Linked DNA regions of Homo sapiens: region 1 is linked to region 2. Evidence: fine-mapped expression QTL. A gene starts in region 2. The other region holds a variant in brackets. All regions are shown on one strand. Distances are from middle to middle.

Evidence for each region.
Region 1: its variant is fine-mapped to the expression of AEBP2 in esophagus mucosa (GTEx, PIP 0.96).

What each region holds. Positions count from the first base shown.
Region 1 is chr12:19,389,080-19,397,414 of GRCh38, reverse strand. No RefSeq gene overlaps it. Among named protein-coding and RNA genes, the nearest start is that of AEBP2, 46 kb to the left of the region's middle. The variant C/T (reference allele first, on the strand shown) is at 5,179.
Region 2 is chr12:19,434,377-19,442,711 of GRCh38, reverse strand. It overlaps AEBP2 (AE binding protein 2), which reads right to left and starts at 3,220. Exons shown (of 8, transcript NM_153207.5): 1 at 2,342-3,220. The coding sequence starts at 3,012. RefSeq lists enhancers at 1,963-2,052, 2,083-2,132, 8,043-8,142 and silencers at 2,783-2,882, 2,893-3,042, 3,103-3,352.

The DNA.
Region 1 (8,335 bases), 45 kb after region 2:
GTCACCCAGGCTGGAGTGCAATGGCGAGATCTCAGCTCATTGCAAGCTCCACCTCCCAGGTTCAAGAGAGTCTCCTGCCTCAGCCTCCCGAGTAGCTGAGACTACAGGTGCGCAACACCATGCCCAGGTAATTTTTGTTTTGTTTTGTTTTGTTTTGTTTTGTTTTGTTTTGAGATGGAGTTTCGCTCTTGTTGCCCAGGCTGGAGTGCAATGGTGCCATCTCGGCTCACTGCAACCTCCACCTCCCGGGTTCAAGTGATTGTCCTGCCTCAGCCTCCTGAGTAGCTGGGATTACACGCATGCGCCACCACACATGGCTAATTTTGTATTTTTAGTAGAGACGGGGTTTCTCCATGTTGGTCAGGCTGGTCTCAAACTCCCGACCTCAGGTAATCTGCCCGCCTCGGCCTCCCAAAGTGCCGGGACTGCAGGTGTGAGCCACCACGCCCGACAATTTTTGTATTTTTAGTAGAGATGGGGTTTCACCATGTTGGCCAGGCTGGTCACGAACTCCTGACCTCAAATGATCCACCCACCTTGGCCTCCCAGGCTTGAGCCACTGCGTCCAGCCTTGAAAGCCATCTTTCTATTTTAGAAAGGCAGCCTGGGTGCAGTGGCTCACGCCTGTTCTCAGCACCATGGGAGGTCAAAGGAGTAGGATTACTTAAGAGCAGGAGTTCAAGACAATTGTCGGCAACACAGCAAGACTCTGTTTGTATTTTATTTAGAAAAAGAAAAGGTATTATTTTCCTAAGTGACTAATTTCCCTCTTTTTTTTTTTTTTTTTTGAGACGGGGTCTCGCTCTGTCACCCAGGCTGGAGTGAAGTGGCGCAATCTCGGCTGACTGCAACCTCCCCCTCTCAGGTTCAAGCGATTCTCCTGCCTCAGCCTCCAGAGTAGCTGGGACTACAGGCACATGCCACCATGCTCAGCTAATTTTTTTGTACTTTTAGTAGAGACGGGTTTTCACCATATTGGCCAGGATGGTCTTGATCTCTTGACCTCATGATCTGCCCACCTCTGCCCCCGAAAGTGCTGGGATTACAGGCATGAGCCACCGCGTCCGGCCAATTTCTTTTTTAATTTTTTTTTTCTTTTTAAGAGACGGGGACTTGCCGTGTTGCCCAATCTGATCTTGACCTCCTGAGCTCCTGGCCTCAAGTGATCCTTCCACCTTGATCTCCCAAAATATTGGGATTAGAGGCGTGAGTCACCATGCTTGGCTGGTTGAACTTGGAGCTGGACTTTCTGAGCACACAACACTTCTTTCATAGCTCTTGGTCAAATGAGAGGAGGGAAAGGGAAATAACCTATTTTGAAAGCATACCTTAGGGCCAGGTTCAGGATCAGGTAACTCTATTTCCTCTTTTTGTTTGTTTGTTTGTTTGTTTGTTTAAACAGGGTCTCACTCTGTTGCACAGGCTGGAGTGCAGTGGTGTGATCTTGGCTCACTGCAACCTCCCCCTCCTGGGTTCAAGCAATTCTCCTGCCTCAGCCTCCCGAGTAGCTGGGATTACAGGCACATGCCACCATGCCCAGCTAATTTTTGCATTTTTTGGTAAAGACAGGGTTTCATTGTGTTGGCCAGGCTGGCCTTGAACTCCTGGCCTCAAGTGATCCATCCACTTCGGCCTCCCAAAGTGCTGGGATTACAGGCATAAGCCACCGCGCCCAGTCCCTATTTCCTTTTTATACAGATGAGAAAACTCATCTAGGATATCTGAGGATGATGGGTAAGTAAACCGTAAGCAGGGTCTCTAGTCTGGCTCATGCTGTTATCCCCAGCACCTCGCTGAAGAACTGGTCCCTGGTAGGAAGAGAGAAAGAATAGAAGTGGAGGGATCATTGCTGCACAACTGGAGCAGGGAGGAGAGAAAAGTGATGAAGTTGTGGGTGACCCCATTGCTTGAGCAGTGGTAGTACAGGATCCTTCTGGGTTGTAACTGTGTCTTATGCAACTTAAACCACATGGAACACAATACTAGAAACATGGTGGGTGCTCAAAGGAGGTTTTTCTAATTAATTAATCTAGATTAGCACCATTTAAAACATAAGTCCAGGCCGGATGCAGTGGCTCATGCCTGTAATCCTAGCACTTTGGAACGCCAAGGCAGGCAGATCACAAGGTCAGGAGTTTGAGACCAGCCTGGCCAATATGGTGAAACTTCGTCTCTACTAAAAATACAAAAATTAGCCGGGCGTGGTGGTGGGCGCCTGTAGTCTCAACTAGTCGGGAGGCTGAGGCAGGAGAATGGCGTGAACCCGGGAGGCGGAGGTTGCAGTGAGCCAAGATGGCGCCACTGCACTCCAGCCTGGATGACAGAGTGAGATTCTGTCTCAAAAAAACAAAAATAAAAACAAAAAAAGTCTGTTATTACTGTCATGTTAACAGCTCAGAACTTGGTTAACCTTTTTTTTTTTTTTTTTTTTTTTTGGACAAGTTCTCATCACTCTGTTGCCCAGGCTGAATTGCAGTGGCCCAATGCTTGCTCACCGCAGCCTTCATCTCCTGGGCTTAAGTGATCCTCCCATCTCAGCCTCCCAAAGTGATGGGATTACAGGCATGAGCCATAGTGTCCCGCCCTATTCTCTCCTCCTGTCTGTGAGATTCCAGATCCTTGTAATTTTGGGAGACAGAGAGATAATAATCTTTTTTATTAAAAAACAAGATATTTATAACATATGTTTTCACTCAGCAAAGATTTACTATGTGCATAACACTCTGCTAAGTCGGGAGATACCGTGGGGATACAGTGGGGGACTCACAAGTCTATTAATGCTACAATAGGGAAGAAGCTAAAGCTGTGAAGTACACAATAGAGGGATGTTTTGTCCCAAGAGGCATAAGGCAGTCAGGAAAATATTTCTGGAAGTAGTGAGGTCTTAGCTGAAAGGTAGGTAGGATTTCCTAGAACAAAGGAAAGGGTGTGTGGGTGTGAGTTCATGTGTGCCTGAAAGGAGATTGTCTCAAGCAGAGGGAACACCATGTCTTTTTGATCAACTTGGATCTCCACATTCTTTTTTTTTTTTTTGAGACGGAGTCTCGCTCTGTTGCCCAGGCTGGAGTGCAGTGGCAGTGATCTTGGCTCTCTGCAAGCTCCACCTCCCGGGTTCACGCCATTCTCCTGCCTCAGCCTCCCAAGTAGCTGGGACTACAGGTGTCGGCCACCACGCCCGGCTAATTTTTTATATTTTTTTAGTAGAGACAGGGTTTCACTGTGTTAGCCAGGATGGTCTCGATCTCCTGACCTCGTGATCCACCCGCCTCGGCCTCCCAAAGTGCTGGGATTACAGGTGTGAGCCACTGCCCCTGGCCTATTTTTAAATTTTATTTATTTATTTTTGAGACACAGTCTCTAATTTTATTTTTTATTTATTTATTTTTTTTGAGATGTAGTCTCACTCTGTCACCCAGGCTGCAGTGCAGTGGCATGACCTCAGCTCACTGTCACCTCCACCTCCCAGGTTCAAGTGATTCTCGTGGCTCAGTCTCCCTAGTAGCTGGGATTACATGCGCCCGCCACCACGCCCATCTAATTTTTGTATTTTTAGTAGAGACCGGGTTTCACCATGTTGGCCAGGCTGGTCTCAAACTCCCAACCTAAGATGATCCATCCACCTCAGCCTCCCAAAATGCTGGGATTACAGGCGTGAGCCATCACACCCAGCCTGGATCTCTACATTCTGTGAAGCATGAGCAAGTACATAAAGTTAGATGAGTGGTATGGTTAAGTGCACAAACCTGAGCCTCCTCATTTTCTTTCCCTTTAAATTGTGGTAAAAGGCACATAACATAAAATTTACCATTTTAACAATTTGAAAGTGTACAATTCGGTGGCATTAAGTACAGGTATTCATGATGTGCAGACATTCATTCATAGTGTGCAGACATCATGACCTCGTTAACAAAACCTTTTCTTCATCCCAAATGGAAACCCCATACCCATCAAGTAGTCACTTCTCATTTCCCTCTTTCTAAGCACCTGGCAACTACTAATCAGCTTTCTGTCTTTATGAATTTGCCTATGATGGATATTTCATATCAATGGAATCATACAATATGTGGCCTTTTGTAAATTCGTTCTTCACTTAGCATAATGCTTCCTTTCTTCCCCCTTCCCCCTTCCCCTTCCCCTTCCCCTTTCCTCCCTCCCTCCCTCCCTCCCTCCTTCCTTCCTTCCTTCCTTTTGATGGAGTCTCGCTCTGTCACTGCCTCAGCCTCCCAAAGTGCTGGGATTACAGGCATGGGCAACCTTGCCCGGCCTAGCATTCCAGAGATAACTATAACCTGATTTTGCCATTTATCCTTTTCCACAGGTCTTTATATTTTTACAATATTTATGTGTCCATATATGTGTGTGTATATTTTCATGAATATTTTATGCTTATATAGATAAAATTACATTGTATGTATCCTTCTGTCACTTGGTCGCTACCCCTAGCCCACTAATCTTACATCTGTGTGAAATTTTCATGCTGAGACGTGTCATCCAAGTCTATTTTCAGTGCAGCATAACCTTTTCATTGTATGAATATACAAAAGTGACACAGTTATCTATTCAAAAGGCAAATCTGGTCCTGTCAATCTCCTACTTAAAATACCTCAGGGCCGGGCGTGGTGGCTTAAGTCTGTAATCCCAGCACTGTTGGAGGCCGAGGCAGGTGGATCACCTGAGGTCAGGAGTTCGAGACCAGCCTGACCAACATGGAGAAACCCCGTCTTTACTAAAAATACAAAATTAGCCGGGTGTGGTGGCACATGTCTGTAATCCCAGCTACTCGGGAGACTAAGGCAGGAGAATCGCTTGAACCCAGGAGGCAGAGGTTGCGGTGAGCTAAGATCGTGCCATTGCACTCCACTCTGGGCAACAAGAGCAAAACTCTGTCTCAAAAAAAAACAAAAACAAAAACAAAAACAAAACAGTCCAGGCACAGTGGCTCACTCCTGTAATCCCAGCACTTTCAGAGGCCGAGGTGGGCGGATCATGAGGTCAGGGGATCGAGACCATCCTGGCTAACACAGTGAAACCCCCATCTCTACTAAAAATAAAAAAAATTAGCCAGGTGTGGAGGCAGGCTCCTGTAATTCCAGCTACTTGGGAGGCTGAGGCAGGAGAATTGTTTGAACCCGGGAGGCAGACATTGCTGTGAGCTGAGATCACACCATTGCACTCCAG[C/T]CTGGGCAACAAAGAGCAAAACATATACATATTTTTCCAGCTGGAGCTGGAAGATTGCTTGAGTTTAGGAGTTTGAGAGCAGCCTGGGCAACATAGTGAGACCTTGTCTCTATAAAAAAATTTAAAAATTAGCCGGGTGTAGTGGCATGAGCCTATAGTCCCAGTTACTCAGTAGGCTGAGGTGGGAGGATTGCTTGATCCCAGGAGGTTGAGGCTGAAGTAAGAAGTAAGCCAGGATCATGCTACTGCACTCCAGCCTGGGTGACACAGTGAGACCCTGTTCACAATAAAAGAGAGAGAGACGGCTGGGTGTGGTGGCTCATGCCTGTAATCCCAGCACTTTGGGAGGCTGAGGTGGGCGGATCACCTGATGTCAGGAATTTGAGACCAGCCTGACCAACATGGAGAAACCCTGTCTCTACTAAAAATACAAAATTAGCCGAGCGTGGTGGTACATGCCTGTTATCCCAGCTACTCGGGGGGCTGAGGCAGGAGAATAGCTTGAACGCAGGAGCCGGAGGTTGCAGTGAGCCGAGATGGCGCCATTGCACTCCAGCGTGGGCAACAAGAGCGAAACTCCTTCTCCAAAAAAAAAAAAAAAAAAAAGGAGATACAAATATTAGCTGGGTGTGGTGGCACATGCCTGTAATCCCAGCTACTCAGGAGGCTGAGGCGTGAGAATCACTTGAACCGAGGAGGCAGAGGTTGCAGTGAGCTGAGATCGTACCACTGCACTCCCACCTGGGCGACAGAGCATGATTCTGTCTCAAAAATAAAGTAAAATAAAAGAAAATAAAAATAGATTTTAAACAATATATTCTTTGGTGGTTTCATCAGACATTTATGAAGATTCTCAGTGAGTTCTATTGCTGGCTGTGACCTTCATTGTTCTCTTCAGTTGAACCTGATGCCTGATGCACCTTCTGATCCTTGCTCCCTTCTGCCTCCAATCCTCAAGCTTATAGCCTTTTTACTGCTTCCAGATTCCACTTTCTTTCCTTCCTTTAAATTCTTATTTCTTTTACTTTTGTAAAAGGAGGCAGATGTGCCACGGATTATATGTTGTTTCCACAAAATGTATGTGCTGAGTCTACTTTTGGTCCATCCACAGGAATCTTACGAGAACTGGTTATTGTCTCTCTGAAAGCAATCACAGTCCTTCCTTGAGTCTCCCAGAACATTTTAGCCCAGATGGTGTTAAGGACCAAAGCCTAGAGTTCTCTTCAGATCAAGATAGTAGACAAGATAATAGACTTATGTTATGCTGGTATTATTTTTTTAGGGCTAGGTTTGATTTTAAAATGTAACTGTGGCCGGGCGTGGTGGGTGGCTCAAGCCTGTAATCCCAGCACTTTGGGAGGCTGAGGCAGGTGGATCACGAGGTCAGGAGATCGAGACCATCCTGGCTAACATGGTGAAACCCCGTCTCTACTAAAAATACAAAAAAATTAGCCGGGCCTGGTGGCGGGCACCTGTAGTCCCAGCTACTCGGGAGGCTGAGGCAGGAGAATGGCATGAACCCAGGAGGTGGAGCTTGCAGTGAGCAGAGATCGCGCCACTGCACTCCAGCCTGGGCAACAGAGCAGGACTCTGTCTCAGAAAAAAAAAAAAAAAAGGTAACTGTGTAAGTTGTCTATTACAATGTTTTAAATCAACTATGAGTCATTCCAAAAAACAAGCAAATGAACCAAATCACTGGAAACTCAAAGGAGAGCTTGTTTTATGTTGATGTTCCTGAGATTTCCTCAGAGATGATACATTCACACTATCAAATTCTTCCAGACCATTTCACAAATAAGTTTTTACTTAGCATCCTGACCCAAGACTTTCTTTTTGGCATGCCAATCAGTCTTCCTTCAAAAACAGGTTCTACATGATTGTGCGCTGAGCCTATTGCTGAAATAATTATCACTTTGTTTTACCAAGCGAGCTTTAGTCAGGCAACTAGGGATGTGCTGGAGTGTGTCCTCTTAGAAATACAAGTGAAATGTAACAGATTGCCAATAGCTATATTTTCCAAAATGGCTTATTTATGGTTTTCCCTTTAAACTTGGCTTTGACTCAACTCACAAAGTTTTACAGCTAACATTTAGAGGTCACGTGGGGGGCAGAAGGCATCATCAGGTTGATTTTAACTGACTAGTTTATCTCCAGTTTCTGGCCCAATGGGAAACTAAAAATGGAAATTTACTTTCTGCTCCTTATTCTAAAACAAAGACGTGATTTCTTGCCAAAAATAAATCATAGAATGTGGAAGTGTTTAAAGAAGATCCAGAATGAACATTATCGTGTATATCCAGGCTTTTCTGTGAATGAATAGTATACATGTCTCTTTAACAAAATGGGATCCTGCAGGACATATTGTTTTATAAACTGCCCTGTTTACTACATATACAGTGAACAGCTTTTCATAGATTAACCACACCATACAATAAGGAACAACATGCACTGGATAGTCTCTGATTTATTTAACCAGTTCGCTGCAGGTGACATTTAGTTTGTGAGGTGGATGTTAGTTTGTGGGATATTTTTTGCAGCTTGGCTCACTCAACACCCATTTCAACTCTTTTCTCCTTGCCTTTCTCTATTCTAAAGTTTGGGAAGAGAAACACTTGTTTTCCCAGACACCCCGATGGCTAGGGTGGCCATGTCATTTGGTTCTGGCCAGTGAGAATATGAGACTGTGTTGAGACCACTCAATTTGACATAGCACACCTGCTCACCAAAATGTGTGTGGATTTCTCCCCATCAGCCCACCAAGCAAACCTCCAGCAGATTCTCCAGCGCATACCGGCTAGGTGTCCTCTAATTCAATTCTGACACTACATACCTGGAGATAGTGTCCGTTCCCACAGGTGGAAGGATCAGCCCCACTAAAACTGCCTCCACTTCAGATGCCAATCACAAGTCCGTGCCTCCCCAGACTTTCTGACTGGCTACAAACCAGACCCTCTCTTGGGCTTGATTAATTTGCTAGGAGGGCTCACAGAACTCAGGGAAACACTTACGCTGATGGTTTATAATAAAGGATACAGATGAAGAGATGCATAGGGTGAGGTATGGGGTAAGGGGTGTGGAGCTTCCACACTCTCCAGGAACCTCCATACATTCAATCATCTGGAAGCTCATCAGAACCGTGTCTTTTATGGAGGCTTCA
Region 2 (8,335 bases):
TACCCTGAAATGGTGACATTAAAAACAGTATTCTGTAGTCTCTAAAATTAAGCATTAAGAAAACCAAGTTTGCTTGGTTATCAAGTTTTAACTGTAGTTGGATTTGTGACACCCGTATTTTACTTCTTATTCTGAAATAAGATGTAAAAATTATATACTCAAGTAAATATCTCATTAATGTCAAATAAAAGCCACAACTCCACTTCCTAAATGTACTTAACCAATAATTCGTCTCCTGAAGTGATGTAGTAAATGGACACTAACTAAAAACAAAACTCTGACACATATCACTTGGTTTTTTTTTGAGACGGAGTCTCGCTCTGTCGCCCAGGCTGGAGTGCAGTGGCACCATCTCAGCTCACTGCAACCTCTGCCTCCCGGGTTCAAGCGATTCTCCTGCCTCAGCCTCCCGAGTAGCTGGGAACACAGGCGCGCGCCACCACTCTCGGGTAATTTTTGTATTTTTAATGTAGATAAGGTTTCACTATGTTGGCCAGGCTGATCTCAAACTCCCAACTCAGGTGATCCGCCCACCTCGGCCTCCCAAAGTCCTGGGGTTAACAGGCCTGAGCCACCGCGCCCGGCCTCAACTTATTTAAGGCGAATTATTTTAACTCTTCAGTGGAAATAATAGGGGACTTGAGAACCTTTGCTCATATCCAGCCCACCATTTCCATGCTGTATTTACTGTCCTGAGTAAGATACTCAACTTGCTTCTTCATCTGTTAAACAGAAGTCAAAATAATACCTATCTTGCACCATAGTTGTGGGAATGAAATGGAAGACATCTAATTTGTACAGTGGTAGGCAAGCATAATACGTGTATACTGAGTAAATGAAAAACGCTGATTTTATAAACTAATGTCAACTTTCAGATATGTAATGGTATCAGAGGAGCATAAAATGGTAAAAATAGCACATGCTTCATTGTGCAGTTTACATCAATTTTTAATTTTCTTGAAGACATTCTCCTTCCTACCCATGCCTACACAGTTCAACACAATTTTTCTAAGGTTTATACAGTCTACTTTACCCGAAGATATTTTCTTAACTAGACGTTAATGTCAAACAGAATCTAATGCCAGATTTTCAAAATATCCAGGACTCTGTATTACTTGTAGCATTAAATACTAAGGTGTTCGTTTTTAATCAATTAATCAGAATTCCTAGAACTTTAGAATATTAAACTCTTAAATGAAAATCACTATCGACCACTAAAATTTCCATTGCTATACTTTTCTGGAGAGCATGTTTAAAAAAAATGTGATTGTCAAAACATAGATGGTCAAAATAAACGCTAATACACTTTAGAAGTGGCATAATATGCATGTGATTCTCGTTTTTTTAAAAGTACATTAAAAACCAACTAACCCAAACAGATCAAAAGTAATGATAAGACAATTGAAACATACACTATCACACTTTTTAAATGTTCTGAAAAAATGCGCATTTTTGTCACTCTCCAGTTACTTCTAACAAGCTTTAGTAAGAAAAATAATACTCATTCCTTCCGAGACCTCTCCAATGCATGACTTTAAATATTATCATTTAAAATCATGACTCTCATGTTGAAACATTACTATAAAGCCGCAAACTACGTTGTACCTTCAAGACTGTATTTTGTTACGATTCCAACTCTCTGATTCCGCAAAGTTATCTTAAAAGGCCATCAATTCACTATTCTTTTCCACAACCATTTATACGTGTTTAAAACTTTTTCCCAGATATGCTCCCAAAACAAATAGAAAAGATTGTTAAAATCACGTTGGAGACCACATGACTGACTACAAATGAGGGATTTGGGAGGCAATGATTTAATATAAAAGAACAGTCCTTTTTTTGTTTAAGTAGAGAAAAGTGATAGCTGGGGTCTCTCCCATGGACAAGGAAGTTCTGTTAAATCCAGGCGAGACCAGCCATATTGGAAACACTTGTCAATTGTAGTTCTGACAAGTGTTCCCGAACACGGTTGGAAGAAGCTAACCTTGAGTACCGACGTGTGTACATCAAGGCCCTCTTCTGCTCCGCCAGAGGATCTGGGCCCGTTTGGGGACTGTTTCCGAGTTAGAGCCGTCCTGAGGTCCGTGAGGAGCGAAGCGCCGAGGGGAAAGAGGGCGGGGAAAGGAGAGTTGGGGGGGAACGGTTTGAGAGTTGGAAGCCGCGATGCGCTGCGAGAGGGGCGCGGCGGCGACGGCGAGAGATTTCCGAGTTGAGAGTCTGGGGGAGGGGCCGAGGATTCGGGGAGCAGGGGGATCGCGGCAAAACGTCGCCTTGGTCCCCCTCTGAGGGGCCCGGGAGTTCAAGAGGAGGAAGGGAAGGGGAAACGCTTCAGAGCACTGACCTGTCCTCCGAGTCCATGCGGCTCAGGGGTTCCCCATCCGACGACATCTCCAAGCTGCCCCGCCGGCCCCCGGAGGTCGCGCTGCTTCCGCCTCCCCCAGTCCCGTAGCCCTCGTCGCCGCCGCTGGAGACTACGCTGCTGCTACTGCTGCCGCCCCCGCCGCCGCCCTGGCTGCCCCGCGGTCCCTTGGGCTCCTCCAGGCCCTCCTTGCCGTCCCCATCCCCGCTGCTGCTGCTGGCGGCGCCGGGGCTCAACGAGCGGGTCTCGTCGCTGCTGCTCCCGCCGCTGCTGCCCACCAGGCTCTCGGCGCTACTCTCCTCCTCACCCCCGCCGCTGCTGCTGCTCTCATCTTCCTCCTCCTCGTCGTCCTCCTCCTCGTCTTCGTCCTCCCCGGCCTGGCTGGCGCTCTCGGGGCTCGGCTCCGACATCGTCTCTGCCTCGCCGCCCCCCACTCCTCCGCCGCCGCCTCCGCCGCCCCCACCGCTGCCGCCGTTCAGCAGCAGCGCCGCCACCGCCTCGGCCTCCGCCTCCTCTTCCTCCTCCTCCTCTTCCTCCTCCTCCTCGGGGGGCTCAGCCCGGCCCCGCGCCGCCGAACCCGGGCTGCCGGGGGGCAGAGGGCTCAGGCGGGAGAGCTCCTCCAGGTCGGCCATGTCGGTGATAGCGGCGGCCATGGCGGCGCCTGCTCCTCCTCCTCCTCCTCCTCCCCACCGCCGCCTCCCTCTCTCGACTCTCTCTCCCTCGCCCCCCTCCCAAACGCCCAAAACTCCGCCGACGCCGCTGCAGAGCAGGAGGAGGGCCCGCGAGCTGCGTCAGCCTGCACACGCGCTACGGAGCCCGCGCGGGGACAGGCGCGCGACTACGCGCACTCACACGGAGACTGCTGCGCGCCTGCGCGGCGGCACGAGGCAGCACCTCCCCCGGCTGCGGGTTCTGCGCCCCCGCCCCCGCCCGGCGCCCGCCCCGCTGCCCAGTGCCCGCCCCCGCCCCCGCCCCGGCGCCTGCAAGTGCTCAGCGTTTCCTCGGGGCCTTCCCACGCCCTGCCGGGCTTCGAAGCCCAGGGACACGCGGACTGAAAACTCCAACGCTGGCCGGGGATTTTAGCAGCCTTCCGAGTTCTCACGATAAACTCATTCATTCCGGGGGTGTTTGAGGAGTGTCCCCTCTGTACAGGAGCTGAGCCAGGAATAGAACGAGCCTACAGTCTACGAAGAGAGCGGTTTAAAATGGGCAAAAATTAAAACACTACGGTGTAAGGTACTAAATTTTTATGCGCAACACAGGGCGACAGGTTTTAATACACCCTATGTTTGAATACCCCTGGAGATGTTGACATCCTGAACCCAGAGCAAACATCTTGGTTCAGGGTCCTCAAACTTTTTACTTCATGAGCCTTCTAAAACAATTTCGTAAAGCTGTGTATGTTCTTATACAGTTTAGAATGACAGCTACATTTTTCCGGCTTATAAATATTTCATCTGTCGCATTGTTTAAATACTGTATAGCCAATGGATTCTAAATACCATAGGGATTTAACACCCACTAATATCCATTTTTTTAAAATACAGTTTGGAAAATACAATTTCCAAATATTGTTTTCTGGAACTCATATTGACGTTGCATATCTCCTCTAGAATTTTATCCTAGTAATATATTTTATATTTGAACTATTTTGATCGTCTTACTTGTAATAAAAATGTGAACATAAATTGAAGTATCTGGGTTGTTTTTTATATTTTCTGTGATCATAAAGCTCTTATTTCAACCGATCAAAACAAATCTATTTCAAATGTTTGTAAGTACTAAACACAAAAGCAAAATTTTATTGGCAATGCATCTTGCAGAAATGAACTTGGGTGGACTTTTTTCTAATATACATTATGACCTTCAGTGGATGGATTTTTTTGAGAAATAGTTCAGCATCAGTTCTATTCCAAGTTTTCAATTCCATGGATATAAGTGTTGAGAAAACTTGTTCGCATAAAAAAAGCAGATGAGAATGAATGGAGTTTTGTTATAGTAATGCCACACAATTCTTTGAATGCCTTTCGCATTATATGCCCAAAAATCGCATAAAGATCTAACAAAGAAAAAATACTTTTAATGATCTGTCAGCTGACAACTCTGATTAGGTTCTCTTTCAACTTGTTGAAAGCAAGCAACTGAAAACCACCTGACTTGTGAAAGGATGTGTTACCCCATTCTTATTCACCAGTCAATTGTGCCTTTCTTTGGTGTCCTGGAGGTTTTTGCATAACCGGGTATTGCACCTTACTAAGATTTAGCATGAGGAAGAATTATGCCTTTCTTTTGTAAAGTAGGGAAGAGGTCATTGGAAGAAAGGAGACTGGAAAAGAGCCCACATTACACCCTGACCCAAGGACACATTTTCAGGCCAATTTTAGGGATGCTTCTACTCAAGGAAAATGAGGATAGAACTGACTGCCTGAAAACAGAGCCTCCATGCTCATTTCCCATTTGGGAAAGTCGTCATATACCGTGAGTACCCAGTATTACATCCTCTGCCTTAGGCCTTTGGACAACTGTTATATAAAATGTTGCCTCTAAGGGAATGCAAAAATAATAACATGGGACATCATTTACAGATACCTTCAGAGGCACATACAATGTAAGGTATTAACTTCCAACATTTTAAACCTCAAAGGCAATCTTAGATAAGGAATGTATTAAAGTGAAATACACTGTAAACTGTAAATTAAAAACTATCAGAAGGCCGGCAGGGTGGCTTATACCTGTAATCCCAGCACTTTGGGAGGCCAAAGTAGGAGGCTCACTTGAGCCCAGGAGTTTGAGACCAGCCTGGGTAAAATAGCGAGACCCTGTCTCTACGGCACACCTGTAGTCCCAGCTACTCAGGAGGCTGAAGTGGGAGGTTCACTTGAGCCCTGGAGGTTGAGGCTGCAGTGAGCCATGATCATGCCACTGCACTCCATACCTTTCCTCACCCATCATAAGGGTCATGGCCAACACTTCTACAACAAAAGACAGGTTAACAAGAGAAAAGTGTAACAAATTAATTTAATGGAAGTCTTATGTGACACAGGAGCCTTCAGAAGTAAAGACCCAGAGAAAGCTGTCCATTTGTATGCCTAGATTCAACAGAGTGGACATCCATGTAGAAATGTGATTGTACAAAAAGAGAATGAACTAATAGTAATAGACTGAGTGTGGAAACCCAGCAAGGCCTGTCCAGATTCGTCTTGACCTCTCTGTGTAGCATTCCTTCCACACCCAGGTATAGAGCAGACTTCTCTGGAATGAGAGTCTTCAAATGAGAAGGCAGAGAGTGACCTTTCTTCGTTTCATGGCTTACTTTGTGGGGAAAGGAGTTCTGGTTTATATGACTAGCCTAGGGTGAGTAACAGGGATAGGAGACAGCAGGACAGAGGTTCAGTGAGAGACTTTGCTTCTCAGGCTTTCCAATCTCCTTTAGTTCAAAGTACTCAGCATGGGGGCCAGGTGCAGTGGCTCACTCTTGTAATCCCAGCACTTTGGGAAACTGAAGCAGGGGGATCACTTGAGCCCAGGAGTTCGAGACCAGCCTGAGCAATGGGATGAAACTCCATCGCTACAAAACACTTTTTTTTGTTGTTAACTAGCCAGGTGTGGTGGTGTGCACCTGTAGTCCCAGCTACTTGGGAGGCTGAGGTGGGAGGACAGCTTGAGCCAGGAGATTGAGGCTGCAGTGAACTGTGAGTGATCAAGAGCCATTGCACTCCAGTTTGGGCAATAGAGTAAGACCTTATCCCCCCCCCAAAAAAAAAAGAAAAAAGAAAAGAAAACAAAAGAAAACACAAAGTGTTACCAGAAAGGGGCCCCGATCCCGACCCCAGGAGAGGGTTCTTGGACCTCACACAAGAAAGAATTTGGGGTAAGTCCATACAGTAAAGTGAAAGCAAGTTTATTAAGAAAGTAAAGGAATAAAAGAATGGCTACTCCATAGACAGAGCAGCACTGAGGGCTTCTGGCTGGCCACTTTTATGGTCATCTCCTGATTATACGCTAAACAAGGGGTAGATTATTCATGAGTTTTCCAGGAAAAGGGTGGGCAGTTCCTGGAAATGAGGGTTTCTCCATTTTTTAGACGATAGGGTAACTTCCCGACATTGGCATGGCATTTGTAAACTGTCAAGGCACTGGTGGGAGTTGTCTCTTAGCATGCTAATGTATTATAATTAGCACATAATGAGTAGCTACGATGACCAGAGGTCACTTACATCGCATCTTGGTTTTTGTGTGTTTTGGTCAGCTTCTTTACCACATCCTTTTACCAGCAAGGAGTTTGTGACCTGTATCTTGTGCTGACCTGCTATCTTATCCTAACTTAGAATGCCTAACCTCCTGGGAATGCAGCCCAGTAGGTTTCAGCCTTATTTTACCCATCCCGTATTCACGATGCGAGTCGCTGTGGTTCGAACACCTCTGACAAAAGTACTCAGCATGCCAAAGCACCATACTTTGGGGTATCATTTTCTGAGCCCCAACAAATGTATGTGCCAGACACTGTGTTAAGCCCTGGAGATTATGGTTCATGTTTGGCCGAGTTAATCAAGGAAAGCTTCATGAAAAATGTAGGATTTCGACAAAGTGTATAGTAAGACATACAATAACTATATCTGGTTTCATTAATTTGAGCTGGATTTTGAAGAGCGAACAGAATTCTGTGTTGGGGAACTCAAACTGAGAAGCAATATACGGAAAAGCATCAACATTTATTCATGACAAGGTTAATTAACCATAAGAAATCATGGCAAGAAAGCTAAAAATAGTTAAATATTAGATTGAAGAAGGACATGAATAAAAAGTTGATGTTGGGGACCAGTCACAGTGGCTCATGCCTGTAATCCAGCACTGTGGAGAGCTGAGACAGACAAATCACTTGAGGTTACGAGTTCAAGGCCAGCCTGGCCAACAAGGTGAAACCCTATCTCTACAAAAAATAAAAAAATTAGCCAGGCACAGGAGAATCACTTGAACCCGGGAGGTGGAGGTTGCAGTGAGCCGAAATTGCGCCACTGCACTCCAGCCTGGGTGACGGAGCATGACACCGTCTCAAGAAAAAAAAAAAAAAATTAGCCAGTCATGGTGGCACACAGCTATGGGAGGCTGAGGTGGGAGGATCACCTGAGCCTAGGGAGGTCCAGGCTTTCAGTAAGCCAAGCACCACTGCACTTCAGCCTGGGTGACAGAGTGAGACTTTGTCTCAAAAAAAAAAAAAAAGTTCTGACAGGTATGTACTAAGATATTTTAATAAAGGTATGATATGATTAGATTATATTGTACATCTGTAGAATCTAATATATAGGAGATAGGATGAAAAGTGTGAAAAGTTCCAGTGAAGGATTTATTAAGGGAAAAAAAAAGTGTCAAAAGTGAATGGAGATTAGACACATGGAAATGGCAAGTATCAAAGCCACAAACGAATATTTTAGCTGTGGTATTTATACTTGAAGACTAAAATGAACTGTCTCGGAATTGGCATTTTGCAGAAAATTGTGTTTCCCATCACTGGAGAGTTTCCCTGTCTTCCTCTTGGTTTAGTTGCAGACATCACTGCTCTGCATGCATCTCCTTAGAACAAGGCCACACTCCTCCATAACCACAGTGACAGGATGTCATTATTTCACTCTCAAAATTTAAATAACTGAAGTGTTGAACTAGAGCAGAACCTCTGTGTGACAGTTTCTTTTGGCAGCATCAGGTGACAGGTTTGATGATCCTGAGGACCAAAGTCATTCCCCAGCTCAGTACCCATTCATAAACTGTGCATTCCCGGTTTGTAGCTACATAGGTACTAAAAGTAGCTTTCATAAACTTTTATAAACTTTTATAACAACTTGACAGAGCAGTTTTATGTCTGCATAAAATTACTAATCTAAGGGCCAGGCACAGTGGCTTACGCCTGTAATCCCAGCACTTTGGGAGGCCAAGGCGAGTGGATCACCTGAGGTCGGGAGTTCAAGACCAGCCTGACCA